2 separate regions of the Homo sapiens genome follow, and region 1 is linked to region 2. Evidence: fine-mapped expression QTL. Tissue or cell type: whole blood. Region 2 holds a variant in brackets; the other region holds the start of a gene. All regions are shown on one strand. Distances are from middle to middle.

Evidence for each region. PIP is the estimated chance that this variant, and not a neighbour inherited with it, causes the effect.
Region 1: it holds the start of CDH4-AS2, and the variant in region 2 is fine-mapped to the expression of CDH4-AS2 in whole blood (INTERVAL, PIP 0.92).

The regions. Positions count from the first base shown.
Region 1 is chr20:61,715,958-61,724,056 of GRCh38, reverse strand. CDH4-AS2 (CDH4 antisense RNA 2) reads left to right here and starts at 4,309. Exons shown (of 2, transcript NR_147702.1): 1 at 4,309-4,427; 2 at 4,671-6,551. All of the region lies in intron 2 of CDH4 (cadherin 4), which reads right to left.
Region 2 is chr20:61,826,771-61,834,869 of GRCh38, reverse strand. All of the region lies in intron 4 of CDH4 (cadherin 4), which reads right to left. Among named protein-coding and RNA genes, the nearest start is that of CDH4-AS1, 76 kb to the right of the region's middle. The variant G/A (reference allele first, on the strand shown) is at 4,093.

The DNA.
Region 1 (8,099 bases), 110 kb after region 2:
GTGCCCCCTGCATGGGGACCTACCCCCCTGCCACATGGAGCCTCCATCCTGTGCCCCCTGCATGGGGACCTACCCCCCTGCCACATGGAGCCTCCATCCTGTGCCCCCTGCATGGGGACCTACCCCCCTGCCACATGGAGCCTCCATCCTGTGCCCCCTGCATGGGGACCCACCCCACCTGCCGCATGGAGCCGCCAGCCGCTTGCACGTCTGGCTCATGTTCACTTCCAGGTTTCTAGGGCTGAATCCAAAGATGACCCTGAATTTTCCCAGCCCAGATCCCTCTGTAAACACACTCTGGTTGGCTGCCAACTATGTTTTCTAGAGTAAATAAGAAGTAACTCAGGAAATGCAAATAGATTTTCTCTTCTCTCTGCACCGCACAGCCCTGCCCAGGAAACCTCTCCCTGTCAGCCCTCTTGTCCCAGGTGCGTTCACTTCTCATGCATTTTTGAGCTGTTCAGGGAACCCTCGAGAAGAGCAGGTGCTTGGGGTATCTGTAAAGTGAGGATGGAAGCTCCTAGGGTCTCAGGTGCCCATCATGCCCAGTCCCTCAGCAGGGCCCAGGCCAACCCTGCCTTGAGCAAAGGGAAGCCAAGCCCGGAGGAGGCTGCAGGCCCTGGGGAGGAAAACGACAGAGCCAGAACCCACTCATTTAAACGGCAGCTGCACTGCTTGCCCCATGGCGCACGGTGCTCAGAGGGCCCCGGGAGGGGCCTGCCCGGTGCTGAGGAGCCAGGACGGGGGTCCGGAGGAGGTGCAGGGGCTCCTCACCCAGTGAGGCTGCCCTTGGGCAGGGGAGCAGCCACCACTGAGACCAAGGGTCCACTTCCCTCCAGGCTGACCAGGGCTCCATGAAGCCGTGTGAGGATATTGCTGAGGACTTCTTCGGGAAAAACAAGGACTCTGATCCTCTGGGAGTCGGGGACACATGACCAGACTCATGGTGATCGGTGATGAAGAGTGAGGTCTGCCCTTGTGCAGAAGGAAAATCACCATTCCACTTTCTAATGTCTTCTACAGCGTCCTCTTCCTCAGCCAGGGGTCAGTCCAAAGCAAGCAGGACCCAGGATGTCTGTGGTGGCCGTTCCTGATCCAAATCCTGTTTCTAAAGAGCACGAGGAAAGAATCAGCGGATACTCTCAGGTCACAACAGCATCGTCCCAGGAACGTCTTCTCTCTTCTTGGAAATTTTCAATGCACATCAGAGGGTCTGAGAAGTCCTAGAGGGGAGGTGATCACGGGACCCCCACAAAATTTCTGCTTTCCTTGGATGAAAGGCATTGTTGGAAATTCAGGGTGTATCTGTCAGTGCAGGCTGGGTTAGGAGTACCAAACTGCTCCCAGATCTTGTCACTTGAAAGAGCAGAGCGTGATGCTGGTCCATGCACATGACATGTCCACTGTGCATGCGTGGGGGGTGGGGGGGCGCCCTGCCCTGCAGAGTCCTTGGGACAGAGTGGAAGAGGCTTGTTTTTCTGCTTCCACGATGGCCAGTGCAGAGACTGGCCACAAGGGATTAGACACAGCCTGGTAAGGCCCCTCCTGGGGGGATGCACCTGGGTCCTGCTTCCATTTCATTGGCCAAGACAAGTCATGTGGTCGCCTCTAACTTCAGAGGCCTGAGGAGGTGAAATCCTTCCTCACTTCTGGAAGGATGAGTGGGCTCTGTGCCAAGGATATGTCAACATGTGTGTAGCAGTGAGTGCTGATGACGGCGGCTGGCATGACCAGCACGCTGGGCTAGAGGTCGTCTCTGTTGTTCATCAGCAGCCCTTCCACAGCATTGAGAGATAGTCCTGACTTTCCAACCATGGCTTCTTTTCTGCAATAAATACAATGTCACTTACAAAGAAAAAAAACCCCAAAGCAGGTCCTGCATCTAAAGAAGTAATTTTAATGGATACTTCCAAAATAATCTGCCATTTCTTCTTGGCCTGGGGCGTGCTTGTCTGTATGTTTCTCTGCAAAGGCTTCCTAAATCTCTGTGCAATCTCAGTTTGTTCTTTCTCTCACATTGGACGGTGAGGTGCCTGAAGGTGGAGGTTGTGAGGTTTCTGTCTTCTGTCCTTGAGCAGGAAAGAGCCCAGGGCCCCCACTCTCCAGCACACCCCATTTCTCTGAAAGGGCCAATGGAGAGTGTGGGCCATGGAGCCTCCCACAGCCAGGGAAGGGATGCCACACAGCGGGCCGGGTCCTGCAGGAATTTGTCAAGATTCCTGCCCATCCAATATCCACTCTGATGATTTAATTTGTGGCTGGGGAAAAAAGCTGGTAATGAAGTCAGTTTGGAGGTGATTGATACTTCACGAGGTCCTTGACCGATCCCCAAGCCTCACCAATGCCCCCTTCCAGAGAAGCATATCACCAGCCCTCAACAACACTGCCCCAAGGGGAAATGTGCATGGTGCATTATGCAAATGAAGCGTTTCTCCTGAGGTAATTATCCCTGTGCAATTCTGACATGAAGTCTTGATAAAGAATTGTTTTTTAAGATAGCAGTGAAAAAGCCCAGCTAAATGCATAAAAGTTATATGACATTTTACCCTTGGGTGTAAATTATAATTTGCAGAAAGGTCAATGAACCAGAAATGATTTTTTTTCTGATGATTTAGACACTGAGAAGCAGGAGGGCTGGAGGCAGAGGGAGAGCCCCTGGTGTCCATCCTCCAGGCCGGGGTGGGCTCCTCTTCTGGAGAGGACTGTCCAGCAGCCTGGCCAACCATGCCTGGCCTTAATTCCATCCATTTCTAGTGAGTTACAGCTTCTGCTGAATGCACATTAGAAGATGGTGAAAGAAAGCTCTGGGCTTTCCTTAGAGAGCAAAGCATGCTCTCAGTGAAGGGCAGCCTCTGGACTGGACCCTTCTGGCTGCTGAGAAGAGACATACTCATCCTGGAGGCATTCAATTCACCTCCCGCTTCAGGTCACTGAGTCCCACTGTGCGCTTAGCTCCTACTCTGTGCTAGAGCTACTGGAGGGTGCAAGAGTGGCAAGCTACCTCGGGAGGAGCTCAGGGCAGGGAGCCGGGGGGACACATGGTGTGGCCTTGGAGAGCTGAACCCTCGGAACGTCGGATCTGACCAAGCACAATGCCCAGAAACCACCAGGCACTCGCCTGTAGCCAACAAGTCAGGTTTAATGACTCACTGGACCAAGGGAAGCCACCAAGCTAATGGTTACTGTCTCATGTCAAAGGGAAATAACCACCTCTACCTGGCAGGGTGTTTGAGACAATTCAATGTGATGGTACAATGAGAGAACACGCCTCCCCGACCCCTACAATCCCCAGCTTTTAGAGGCAGCTGGGAGGTTTAGCTGAATAGGGAGGAGCCTGTGTGTATCCACGGATCAGAAAATCACGCTGGAGAGAAAAGCATGCAAGCAAATACACAGAACACAGACACAAGACGATGGCTTAGGAATGGCACTCTGCACCCCTGCATGCTGCACCCCTGCACTGTACACCCCTACTCTGTACCCCTGTACTCTGCACCCCTGCACCCCTACACTCTGCACCCCATACCCCTCCACTCTGTACCCCTCCACTCTGCATCCCTGCACCCCTACACCCCTGCATTCTCCACCCCTTCACCCCTCCACTCTGCACCCCTACATCTTGCATCCCTGCACCCCTACACACTTACACTTCGCACCCCTGCACCCCTACACTCTGCACCCCTGCACGTGTCCCCTGCATCACTCTCAAGTTGCTGCCCTGCTTCCTGGTGAGTCAAGACCAAGCTGTGGAATCCGGAGCAGGATGGGGGGCCAGGAGGTGCGGCCCATAGAGCACAGAACTAAACCTGGCTGCTGCATCCTTGAGAGATGGGGAGACTTCAGCTCCTCTCACCACCAACGTTCGCCCAAAACATGAGTCAACTTACGTGAACATGCCCTCCACCCGAAGGCAGGAGGGCCCTGCAGACACACGGGCGATGCTGCCAAACAGCAGGCGGCACTCCCCAACCCCCACCGCCGACTGCCCTCCACTACCGCCTCCTTCTCCGTTACTGAGACATGGGAGGAACTTGCAAGAAGGAAGACGCCCGCTCACCCATGAGCATGGTGCAAAGTGGTAACTGCGGTGCTTAAACTCTGGGAGGGAGCACACCGCAATGTCTTATCACCTTTTCTGCTGTTCACAAAAGCAAGGTGCTTCCCCACCAGCCGCGCCTTCATCTCAACAGTCAGGGCTGCAAGGTTTATCTTAATTTAAAAAACAATTACAAGCGAAACAGAAACTGCCAGGAATTATCCACTCTTCAGAAGGAAAGAACAAAAGGAAGTGACGAGAGACAGGGCCCCATCTTGTCGTATGATATTAACACGGCTGCTCGGAAACACCTCGAGAGAGACACCAGCTTTCCCCACGCTCTTCCTTTGGTTTCTCTTCTGGGGGGACATTGGATCGCACAGCTTTGCAGGTGAGCACAGCCTAAACATAGCTCCATGCGTTTTGCATCCATAACTCTAAAGGCTTTTGTGATTTAAAGCGGCAATTATACAGAGGAACGAGATAAAGACTCCCGAGAAATTATCTCTCTTTGGGTTGGGAGGGGAAGAAAAGCCAGCGAAGGTTAATGTAGTTAGTGAAATATTTCCACAGTTATTTCACGCAAGCATTTTGCAATATTGCTAATGTTTTTGCACATTACATGCTCTTCCAGGGGAAAAACAGCTTGTGTTTTTGAAAGCAAGGAATAAAAACCTCACAGGCCTCCGTGGCTGACTCGTACCTTGGAAGATTCTGCAATGAGGCCACACGGCACAGAAATGTTCTTTTACATCCAGACACTAAACAGTGGCTTGCATCCTTCTCTGTATTAGCAATGAACAAAAACTACCAAGACTTAAAAAAAAAAATCTCTGATTAGAACCCATGGATGCTGACAATTATGTGTGGCTTTCAGATGCAAAGCCATTTGGCTGCAGGTGACATGAAGAGGCTGGGATACGATTTTGATCATTTGCTTTCGCCAGCACTTCCTATTAGCACGAGTGTGGCCAGGGAGGGTCCTTCTCTCATCACACTTAGAGCCACTCGTGATGCTGAGTGTGCTCTTTCATCTGGTGCAGGGCAGGGGGCAGGGCGAGGAGAGAAGACCCCTGCTTCACCCACTAACCAACACCCTGGGCTGGAAGAGCTCCAACAAGCAGCAGACAGAGAGTTCCATCCCCAGCCTGACAGCAGGAACAGTGAAGTCCAAGATAGAGCCAGCTGTCGCTGGGAGCCCGGGATGGTGGGTGCAGCCTCCTCCGCAGCTGGTGAGAGTGTGTGTGTGCAGGGGTGTAGGGTGGCCTGTTAGCCTAGTGTCTCCTGCACTCAAATGCCCTGTTTCAGTTGAGTAAGCTAATTCACACAGTGTCATGCAGGCTCCTCTGGCTTCGGTTCAAGTTAATGTCCCATTGAAAGGCTTCTGTTCACCTTAGGACACCCAGTCGGGTAGCCCCTGCAGCGCTCTGCCCTGTGAGCCTGTGCAGGTGGTGCTTGGCTGTGATCGAGGTTGGCCTGTTCCAGGAAGGGAAGCACGGCCTGGGATATGGGACGGCACTGTCCTGGCACTGCCTCTAACCAGCGTCAGCCTTAGCAGGCACCTGCCTCCTTCTGTGTTGGGTGTGTCCAGAGCCAGAGAGGAGCATTCCTTTTCATCACACCTGAATTATCTCCTTCAACACCCAGAGGGACCAGGCTCCCACCCTTGGCATGATCCAGGAAGAACAGTGACTCGAGTGTGGCTTGGCAGCGCCTTACAGGAGAGGCAGGGATGCCGAGAAGGGCAGGTTTGGGCTTCCCCCGGAGGCAGAGTGGGGTCTGGAAGGCAGGGCCCCTTGGACAGCATATACCCTTCACCCTGCCCTGGGGAAGGCAGCAGGACCCAGCGGCTCAGTCTTCCGGGTGGGTCCTAACCAGCCCCACCCCCACAGTGTGGGTGCTCCCTTGCCTTCTCTGGGACCAGGTCAGCGTGGCTACAGTAAAGGGCCGCATCCCTTCACAGGGGACGCTACCCACAGAGGCCAGCATTGGTAGGGTGCTGAGGATGTGATGTGTGAGGTTGTAGGGGACATCAGGGCCTTCTGTGGCACAGGCAGGACTTGACCTCAGGCGGTGGGCTCCTCGGCCTCCCTCACAGTGCCAGAGCCCACTCTCCTGTCTCCATGTCAGTCCCTTCCACTAAACTAGCCCAACACCTGGTTCACGGCTACCTGAGCACACTGGGGGCTGGGGGCGGGGGGCAGGGCGGTGATGCACACTTATTAAAACCAAGTATCAGACATGGTGGCTCACGCCTGTCATCCCAGCACGTTGGGAGGCCGAGGCCGGCAGATCACCTTAAGGTCAGGAGTTCGAGACCAGCCTGACCAACATGGTGAAAACCTGCCTCTATGAAAAATTCAAAATTATCCAGGTGTGGTGGTGTGCGCCTGTAATCCCAGCTACTCAGGGGGCTGAGGCAGGAGAATCACTTGAACCCAGGATGCAGAGGTTGCAGTGAACCAAGATCGCACCACTGCACTCCAGCTTCGGTGACAGGGCGAGACTCCATCTCAAAAAAACAAACAAACAAACAAAAAAACAACGACAAAAAACCAAAAACCAAAAACCAAAAAAACCCCACGAAATATCTGTGGGGGGAAACTGTGCTTCCAGCTGCCCAAGTGATGGGCGCCACTGCAAAGAGTCCCCGTGCTCAGAGAGCAGCAGCGTCTGTGGCTGGTCCTGCCCAGTACTGGGCCACTCTCTGTCCTGTCCACCCTGTGTTGTCACTAGCTCCCGGTGGCATGGTGCTCATGGCCCTGTGGCTGTCCTGGGCTGCTCCCGCTCCCCTGCCTTTGTCCTGTGACAGCAGCAGCAGTGGGGACAAGTCAAGGGGGACTTGGTGCATGTTGAGTGCTTTACTCATCTCTGCCAAGCAGGAGGAGCTGCTCCTGCCACCCTGCCCTGACGCCCTGCCCTGCTCATGGCCCAGCATGCTGAGGAGCAGGGATGGGAAGAAGCTGCTGGCACTGGCAGCCAGTGGGCCATGACGAGGGTGCAGAGGGTTTCCTCTACCTGGTGAATGCCTGCCCAAGAACCACATTCCACAGCCTCAAGGTCAGTTATACATCAAGGACCTTGGATTTTATTTATTATTTATTTATTTTTTTGAGATAGAGGCTCACTCTGTTGCCCAGGCTCGAGTACAGTGGTGGGATCTCAGCTCCCTGCAACCTCTGCCTCCCAGGTTTGAGCAATTCTCCTGCTTCAGCCTCCTTAGTAGCTGGGATTACAGGCACCCACCAAACACCTAGCTAATTTTTGTATTTTTAGTAGAGATGGGGTTTCACCATGTTGGCCAGGCTGGTCTCAAACTCCTGACTTCAGATGATCCTCCTGCCTCGGCCTCCCAAAGTGCTGGGATTACAGGTGTGAACACCACACTTGATCCAACCTCAGCTATTAGATGAAGCGAAGGGCTTTGGTGAGTCTTTCTTTGCGGGACACAAGCCTGCACTATTCTGTAGACAAGCCCATGGGGATTACCTTAGTGGGTGCCTGTGGACAGGTGAAAAGCAGCACTCAGACCTCCAGTGAGGATGGGACACTTCCTCCTGCTGGGTCCTGCCCCCAAAGCCCCAGCTCAGGGCAAGAGGCAGCTCATAGGTGATGAGCGTCCACCCCTTTACAGCTCCAGCCAAGAGGAGGCTCACAGGCGAGGAGCGTCCACCCCTTTACAGGTCCAGCCAAGAGGCAGCTCATGGGTGAGGAGTGTCCACCCCTTTACAGGTCCAGCCAAGGGGAGGCTCACAGGGAAGGAGCATCTGTCCCTTTATAGCTCCAGCCAAGGGGCGGCTCACAGGTGAGGAGCATCTGCCCCTTTATAGCTCCAGCCAAGGGGCGGCTCACAGGTGAGGAGCATCTACCCCTTTACAGCTCCAGCCAAGGGGTGGCTCACAGGTGAGGAGCATCTGCCCCTTTACAGCTCCAGCCGAGCACAGTGACAGCAAAAGAAGCCACCTCCAGAGCCCCAGCTGGCACTGGGGCTGCTGCTGCCTGGAGCCACGGTGAAGTGTGGCCAGGCATGTCTGGCCGAAGAAAGCCCAGAGGGGGCTGTGGA
Region 2 (8,099 bases):
AAGAGCTGTCACTGCACAGAAGCCAGAGTGGAGGCAGCTTCTGCTTCTGACTCGGGCTAGGAATAATCCTGCCTATCAGAGAGCCACACAGCTAAAGCCAAGTCCAAAGCCGAGACGGGTTCTTTGTTGTTTCAGCCCGTGAGGCTGCGGGGATAGGCAGCGCCAAGTGTCAACCTGTAGCGCAGCGTGTTCGCCCTCAGAGGTGTCGCCCATGCCATCCCCTGATTAGTCCCTGTCATTTTCTGGCTCCAACATGAGAAGTCAGGAGTCTCGTCAGAAAACCTTCATTGATATTTAATGCACGCGTCCCCACCTGTCTCTGGAAGGTCTTGTCACACAGCGTCTACTTTCCTCTAACAGGACCTGTCTGCCCCTGTAAATGTGCCACACTGCTGGGGATACGGGAGCAGGGTCCTGTCCCTTGGGGGCCGGGCTGGAAGATGCAGGGAGCTTAGACCCTGCCTGGGCTGGAGCACAGGTGCAGGTGTAGTGGGAGCCCAAGGGGGCCAGTGTCCAGCAGAAAAGATGGAGGCCAGACCCCAGACCCCAGGCCCCAGATCCTAGGCCACAGGCCCCAGAAGGAGAGGCAGCTGAGTGAGGGGGGGCAAGGGGCAGCAAAGGAGGGCATTTAGGGGCAGCAAGGAAGCCATGAGGCTGGAGTCAGGCCCGAGAAGGAGGTTGCCGTCAGCCCTGGCTTTGCCTGCCGAGACCCACTTCTGCCAGTCTTTGGAAATCACCCCGGCCCACCCTTGCTCTGCATGGACTGTGTGGGGGAACCATCCCACCTGGCCCCAGGACAGCCATGGGACCCCACGTGGACCAATGAGAGTGCACCTCCCTGGGCACTGTGATTGGCTAGGAAGGACATGTGACCCACGCTGGGCCAATAGGAAGGAGACCTGCCAGAATGGATGTCTCCCACTCCTGCACCCTGTGCCTCCAGGCAGTGCTCCCATAGACGAAGAGGAGGGGGCGCCTCCTCACTGGCTCTTCACTTTGGGAAATGGTTTTATCTCCTCATCTGGAAATGGGATTTTTTAAATCCAGCCTGCAGAGCTGTTGCCAAGAGTATATGAAAGATGGTAACTGAGGATCTGCAGTGTCTGTAATTCGATGCTGATGGCCGAGTGCTGTGCTCAGTCACCATGGGGGCTGAGTACTGTGCTCAGTCAGTTATAAGGGCTGAGTACTGTGCTTGGTCAGTTATGAGGGCTCAGTACTGTGCTCAGTCAGTAATGAAGGCTGAGTACTCTTGCTTAGTAATGTGGGTTGAATACTGAGCTTTGTCAATAAATGAAGGCTGAATACTGATGTTTGTGAATAAATCTGGGCTTTTTGTGTTGTCAGTAATGAGGCCTGAGTACTATGCTATGTCACTAAATGTGGGCTGAATATTGGTTTAATCATTAATTTAATCAGTAATAATGCCGGAATACTATGTTTGCTGTCTCCCCCGGAGAGCTCTGCATACTAGTAGACACACAGAAAGTGCTCTGCAAACCAGAGTGGATGATTGAATGAAACAAGGGACAAGGGGCAATAAATATCTGTATATCCAGCCTGGAGGTCCCAGACCACAAGAATAAAATGATTTAATTTAGGTTTTTACTGCATGATGGCACTTTTAGGTCTCGTCCATTGGAAACGTCAGAAATCCCAATGTAACTGGCTCAAGCAAAAAGGCAATGTGCTGGCTCCTATCCTGGAGTGGTGTGGGTTTCAGGCATGGCTGGATCATGCGGGCTGAGTACTGTGTTCACTCACTCATGGGGGCTGAGTACCGTGCTCAGTCCATTATGAGGGTGACCATTCTGACGGGGCTCTCAGCACTTGCTCAGCCCACCCCTCAGACTCGCAGGTACTCTCTCCCCTTCTGCTGCCTCACACTTCTGTGCTTACATCCCATCAGCCTAGCAGCCCCAGGGGTAACAGCAATAGGCTGACATTACAATTTTGACAGTACTAGTAATAGCATCAGTGTCAGGGGCACAGAAATAAGAGGTCGTAGAACCAGTGATGATGGTAATGACAACGGATGCTTCCCTAACTAGTTTGCAGTGCCAGGCAGTACCCCAGGTGGTATGGTTAGACTTTGTGTCCCCACCCGAATCTCATCTTGAATTGTAATACCCAGGTGTTGAGAGGGAGACCTGGTGGGAGATGAATGGATCATGGGGGCAGTTCCCCCATGCAGTTCTCATGAGAGTGAGTGAGTCTCACGAGATCTGATGGTTTCATAAGTGTCTGGCGTGTCCCCTGCTCGCACTTCTCTCTCCTGCCTCCATGTGAAGAAGGTCCTTGCTTCCCCTTCGCCTTCTGCCCTGATTGTCAGTTTCTTGAGGCTTCCCAAGCCCTGTGGAACTGTGAGTCAATTAAACCTGTTTCCTTTGTAAACTATCCAGTCTTGGATAGTATCTTTACAGCAGTGTGAAAATGAACTAGTACACTAGTCACATTACATCCATCCACTCACTTACTCATCACCACAACCCAAGGCAGTGCCGTTAATACAGACAAGGCCATTCATATGCAGCCCTTCCCTGTTACAGATGAGGAAACTGCAGCACAGGGAGGTTGAGTCACTCACCCAAGATCACACAGCTCACAAGCCCTTGAGCTGGGATCCAGAACCCAGGTGTCCTGGCCCCAGTGCCCCTGCTCTGACCCACCAGCTCCCTGCCTCAGTAGGGAAGGTGGCTGTTTCCAGACAGCTCCGTCAAATGTCCTGGGGCAGACACTCATTGGCTCTTACCCCAGCCTTGAAGCAGCTGCCATGGCTGGAGGTTGGAATGGGTACATCTACCAGGCCTGGGTTGGCAGCAGCATCCACCCAACTTGCAGGATGAGTGGGCAAGGTGGTCTCCTGGTCAAAGGAGATGGAAGGAGGAAGTGGATGCAGGCAGGCTCCAGCCGCTCCTGCCCAGGCCCGAGGCTTCCAGCCAGTCCTACCTGTCGGGTGCCTGTGCCACATCTCATAGCCTTCTGGAAGCCATGAGCCTCTCGGCCTCTGTGGGAATGAAGGCAAATGCTGGAGAGGCTGGAGGATTCAGAATTGTGCACACCACGTGCCAGTGACACCTTCTCCCCTTAACGCTGGGAATCCCACTGCAGGGGTGGTATGTTGCGGAGAAATCCCTGTCCCCCCACCCCGCCCAGGAGCCTGGAGGGACCACATGAGGGTGTGCAGGGTGGGCCTGGGGTCCTGAGGGGGAGGAGGCTGCACTGTGGCCTGCCGGACATTTGCTTTGTTCGGCATCAAAGTTTGATGAGGACAGGGACCTGCTGCATGGTTCAGGTGAAGCATAAGACCAGAAGCTAGCGAAAAGCTGGTATTAATGGAAGGTCAGGGAGTAGCGCATTCGGGGTGTCAGGCCTGGCTGTGGCCAAGGGACTCACCCGTCCTGGAGGGGGTGCAGGCTCTACAGGTGCAGGGATTTGAGCACAGGCTCTGCTAACAGAGGCCTGGGGCTCTTCCCTCGAGACTTCACTGCTCGCTAAAATGGACAACTTTTTACAAAGAAATGGCTGCTTCTCAGTTGAAATTCAGCCTGGAAGTGGGCCAGGTCTTTGCTGGTCACCACGAGGACCCATCACCATGATTTATCCTTTTAATTGAAATTTCACTTTTATTTATCCTCAAGTGCAGGGCATGTTCCCAGTGCCAGATGTGGTCAGGGCAGCCACAGGAAGGAAGCTTTGGCCGCCTGGTCTACCAGGGACATAACGCCAGTGTGAGGCTGGTGAGGAGGCTGAGAAGATCGATTTCAAGCAAACTCCATTCACAAAAGCTCCCCCAAGAGTTGAGGGTAGCCAGTGCCTCCAGGAGGGGCGAGACCCCGGCCCTCTTTCCCAGAGTTCTTCCCTTTCCCTGCCCTCGAGGCCTTCAGAGCTCAGCTTCAAACCCCACTCCAGGAGCCCTCCCGACTGACATTTCAATTTCCTAACTGCAGCAGCGGGTTCCTGCACCATCAACAAACAGGGCATCAGGAGAGAGGAGCGGAGGTGGGCAGTTGGCAAGCTCCTGCAGCTCCGAGACTCAGCACGTGCGACCAAGAGCAAGATGTGTAGAGGCAAGAAAGGGCGCCCAGAAGC[G/A]GAAGTAAATGACCGCGGAGTGAAGCCAGCGCCGCCCGCTCCTGCCGCTCTGCAGGGCCTGCCTGCGATGGATTCTGGCCTCGGGGGAAGAACTTAATGGGTGAGGAAGGGGGACCAAGTTCATTTCAGTGTCTCTCCGGAGCACACGCTAGGGCGTCTGTTGAGGTGGGCAAGCTCAGCATGGGGGAGGCCTGGGAGGCGGGGCCGCTGCAGATCTCCTGGGGTTCCTGTCAGCCCAGCCCCACCTCACCAGCAGCAGAAACGGGGCAACCTGGGCTGGCCAGGTCCTGGGGGGCCTTGGGAGGTGGTGGCCCTGGGCCGGATGGCAGAGGCCCCGGGAGGTGTGTGCTGCCCTCCTGGATGCAGGGGGACAGGTGGAGTGTGGCAGGCGGTAGAAGCCCAGGGAGGGTCCCGGGGAAGCACGCTTAGGGCCTGCTGTCTCTGAGGCAGAGGATGTGGATGGACTTGAGTATGTTCCACGCAGGACGCTGAGCCCCAGGATGTGCCGTGCTGCGCAGGTGCAGGGATGTGGCCTCTGACAAGAGAGGACTCGCCTGCTCCCTCGGAGCCTCTGTCTAGTGAGAACAGGAGGCATGCTCAATTTCACCTGGGGGCGGGGGGCTCCAAGGAGATGGATCTGGGTCACATGAACGGGTGTGGGGGTGGGGCATGGGGGTAGAACTGCGGGAGTGGGGTTGGGGGGCAGTCCCCATGAAGGTAGGGCTGTGGGGGACAGAAAAAAAATTTAGAGATCTGGGGCCTGCAAGGGTTTCCATAGCATGTAATGGGAGTTTGGGTCGGCTTGCCAAACACACCAAACCACCCACCTGCACTTCCCACACCTGCCTCCCAGCCCCAGGGCCGGCCGGGCAGGAGCCTCGTCCCTCCCACCCCAGCAGGCTAGGGGCGGGAGGGATGAGGGAAATGAGCTTTGCCCCTGGTCCAAGGGGACTGGGGTCTGGAGGAGGGCTGCACAGACTCCCTGGGGGCAGAGCCATCAGCCCCAAAGCTGGAGGCTGAGCAAGGGTCCCACAGTCACCCACCCGTCTGCAGCCCACGGGCGTCGGCACAGAGGGAGCCTCCTGGGGGCTCCTGGAGTCCAAGTCCGTCCCCAGTGGTGAGTCCGTATTTAATGCTTGGCAGAGGAGCCCCCACTCGCCAGGGCTTCCTCAACAGGAGGCCCGCAGAGCCGCCGTGGAAAACAGGCTCGTGGCCTCCAGAAAGGCGAGCAGAGCTGCTGCATGCGTGACCCAGCAATCCCACTGCTGGGCAGACACCCTAAGAATCAACATCTGTCCACAGAAAGCCTTGCACACAGACGTGCCCGGCAGCACACTGACAACAGCCCCAAAGTGCAACCGCCAAGTGTCTGTCAGCTGCTGAGTGGCTAAACGTGGTCCACCCACACAGTGAAATGTTATTTGGCCCTGAAAGGAACTAGGTTCTGATACGAGCTGCAGCATGGCTGAACCTTGAAAACATTATGCTCAGCGAAAGAAGCCGGACACAAACCCCACATAATACCTCCTTCCATTGACACAAAGTATGCAGGACAGGCAAATCCATAGAGACAGGAAGTACGTTATTGGCTGCTGGGGGCGAGGCCAGGGAAGGAGAAGCGACTGCTTAAAGCAGGGTCCCCAACCCGGTACCGGTCTGTGGCCTGTTAGGAACTGGGCCGCACAGCTGGAGGTGAGTGGTGGCCGGGCGAGCATGACTGCCAGAGCCTCCAGTGCTCCGCCTCCCATGATGTCAGTGGTGGCATTAGACTCTCACAGGAGTGTGGACCCTGTTGTGACCTGCGCATGTGGATGGAGGCTGCACGCTCCTTGTGAGAATCTAATGCCTGATGATCTGAGCTGGAACAGCTTCATCCCGGAAGCATCCTCCTTCCCTGGGTCCATGGGAAAATTGTCTTCCAGGAAACCAGTCTCTGGTGCCAAAAAGGTTAGGGACTGCTTATCTTATCTTTACAAGCATACGCTGAGGCAGGTAAAATAATCATGCCTAGCTTATAAGTGAGGAAGCAGAGGCACAGAGAGGCTCAGTGTCTGAGCCAAGGCCACACAGAAGTGAAGTGCAGAGACTGGGAGCTGAGCCAAGCCTGCAGGACTCCCACAGGGAGGCCATCAGCAAAGGGAAGGAAGAGCCTTGGGAAGCAGTCCATTTCCTCAGGACCCTCCCCTCAGGACCTCTGAGCAAGAAGTCGATTCCGAAGGTGGGGCACACACTGCCACCAGCTGATTGTGCTCTTAGATCCCCTTGAATTTAGAGGTTCCTCCCTCTCTTTCTATCTTCTTGTGGTTCATGTGTTGAGGAAACCAGATCGTTGGTCCTACAGTTTCCCCAGGACTGGATTTTGCTGGCTTCTCCCTATGGTGAGATTTAATCTGTCTCCCTCTCTTTTGTATCCTACACATGGTGGTAAGATCCAGAGGCCAGGTCAGGATCATGTGTAATGGGGGGAGGCAAATACTTCACAGGTGGCGGGTGGTGGGTGCTTTCGTTAGATGCGGGTAATGTCTGTTTTCTCTCTTTTTCTTGGTCTCTCTCGTTGCCACTGTCTCTCTTTTATTTATCAATTTTTTGGGAGGTTAGCAGCCACTAATGATCATTGTCTAGACCCATTATTTCATTAAAGATCACAAAATAGAAATATTTCATCACCTCTACCTCATTTATCAGGTGGAAAACTTTATGAGGTGCAACTTCCCGTCATATTACCTTGAGGCAGTGGGCATATAGAAATGTCAGGAAAATGCTTAGTTCTTTTGCTTTATTTTCCTGTTTTCAAAATAATGAGTTGGTTACTTAGCTTCCTCAAGGGTGACCCGTGAGATTTATTTATTTGTAAAGAATCCTGAAGAATCTAACCTACTAGATCTATTTCCATCTGTTGCAATTGCTACACTGAGAAACTGTTCCATTTTGACCAGTGGGAGCATCTTCAAGTTGACCTGGGTGTCCTGTTGGTGTGACCCTGTCGTCTCTGAGTGTTCATTTGCCTGCTGGTGTGACAAAGTGTTTTGGTCTCATCTTGTACATTTCCTACCTAGAATTAAATTTTCTCTAAGAAGCACTGATTCCTCTTGGTAGGAAACGGTCTTTAGAGGCCATAGCCTAGGGGCTTGGGTGTTCAGTGCTATTGGGCTGGTCTTTTATTTCTCTATAATGGATAGAGCTAGGAAATACATTTTTTAAAAAAGTTGTCATATATCAGGAGTTCACATTAATACCTAAAACCAAATTGAGGACTACAAGGTAGTAGAAATCATTGATTTCACATCTGTGTCTCCTTTCTCCCATACCAATAATCCTGGTCCTCAATACTTATTCATTTGCTTTATTCCATAGGACACAAACAACAGTCTCAAAATAGCAATACCAATAAATCCCAAACAACATGGTTACTGAAAGTAGTTATGATTTTTCTTTTTGGTCTTGGACTATATCCCACCAGGAATATGTAAGTAAAATTATCACGTCTTAAAGTCACTTAAAATAATTAAAATAATTCCCACCGGTGTAGCAATGTCACCAACTTGATAGACGGACGCGTTGATTCCCTTTTGCTTTTGATTTTCAGGGCTTGCTTTGTTAATGTATTGTAAAAGATAACTTTGTAAAAATCTTTCAAAGTCAAATCCACCGAGGTCTATTCTGAGACGTTCAGCTTCTATTTCTATCCCCTCTATCCTGGCCTCTTCCTTCCCCACATTTGTTCATTTTTTATTTATTGTATCTTTTTTTACAATAAGGAAACACATACACACACACACACACACACACACACACACACACACACACACACACACTTTTCCCTTCTTAAATGGTAATAGCTATGCACATTTTCCTCTACCTTGCTTTTTTAACTTACTGGTCCCGGATCATGGTTTTGTCTTCAGACCTCTCTGTGGACTGCAGAACCTCTGCACTGGATGGGCCAAGAGCAGAGGTGAGGAGACAGGTAGGAGGCCATGAGGCCACCAGGTGAGCAAGGTGGGCAG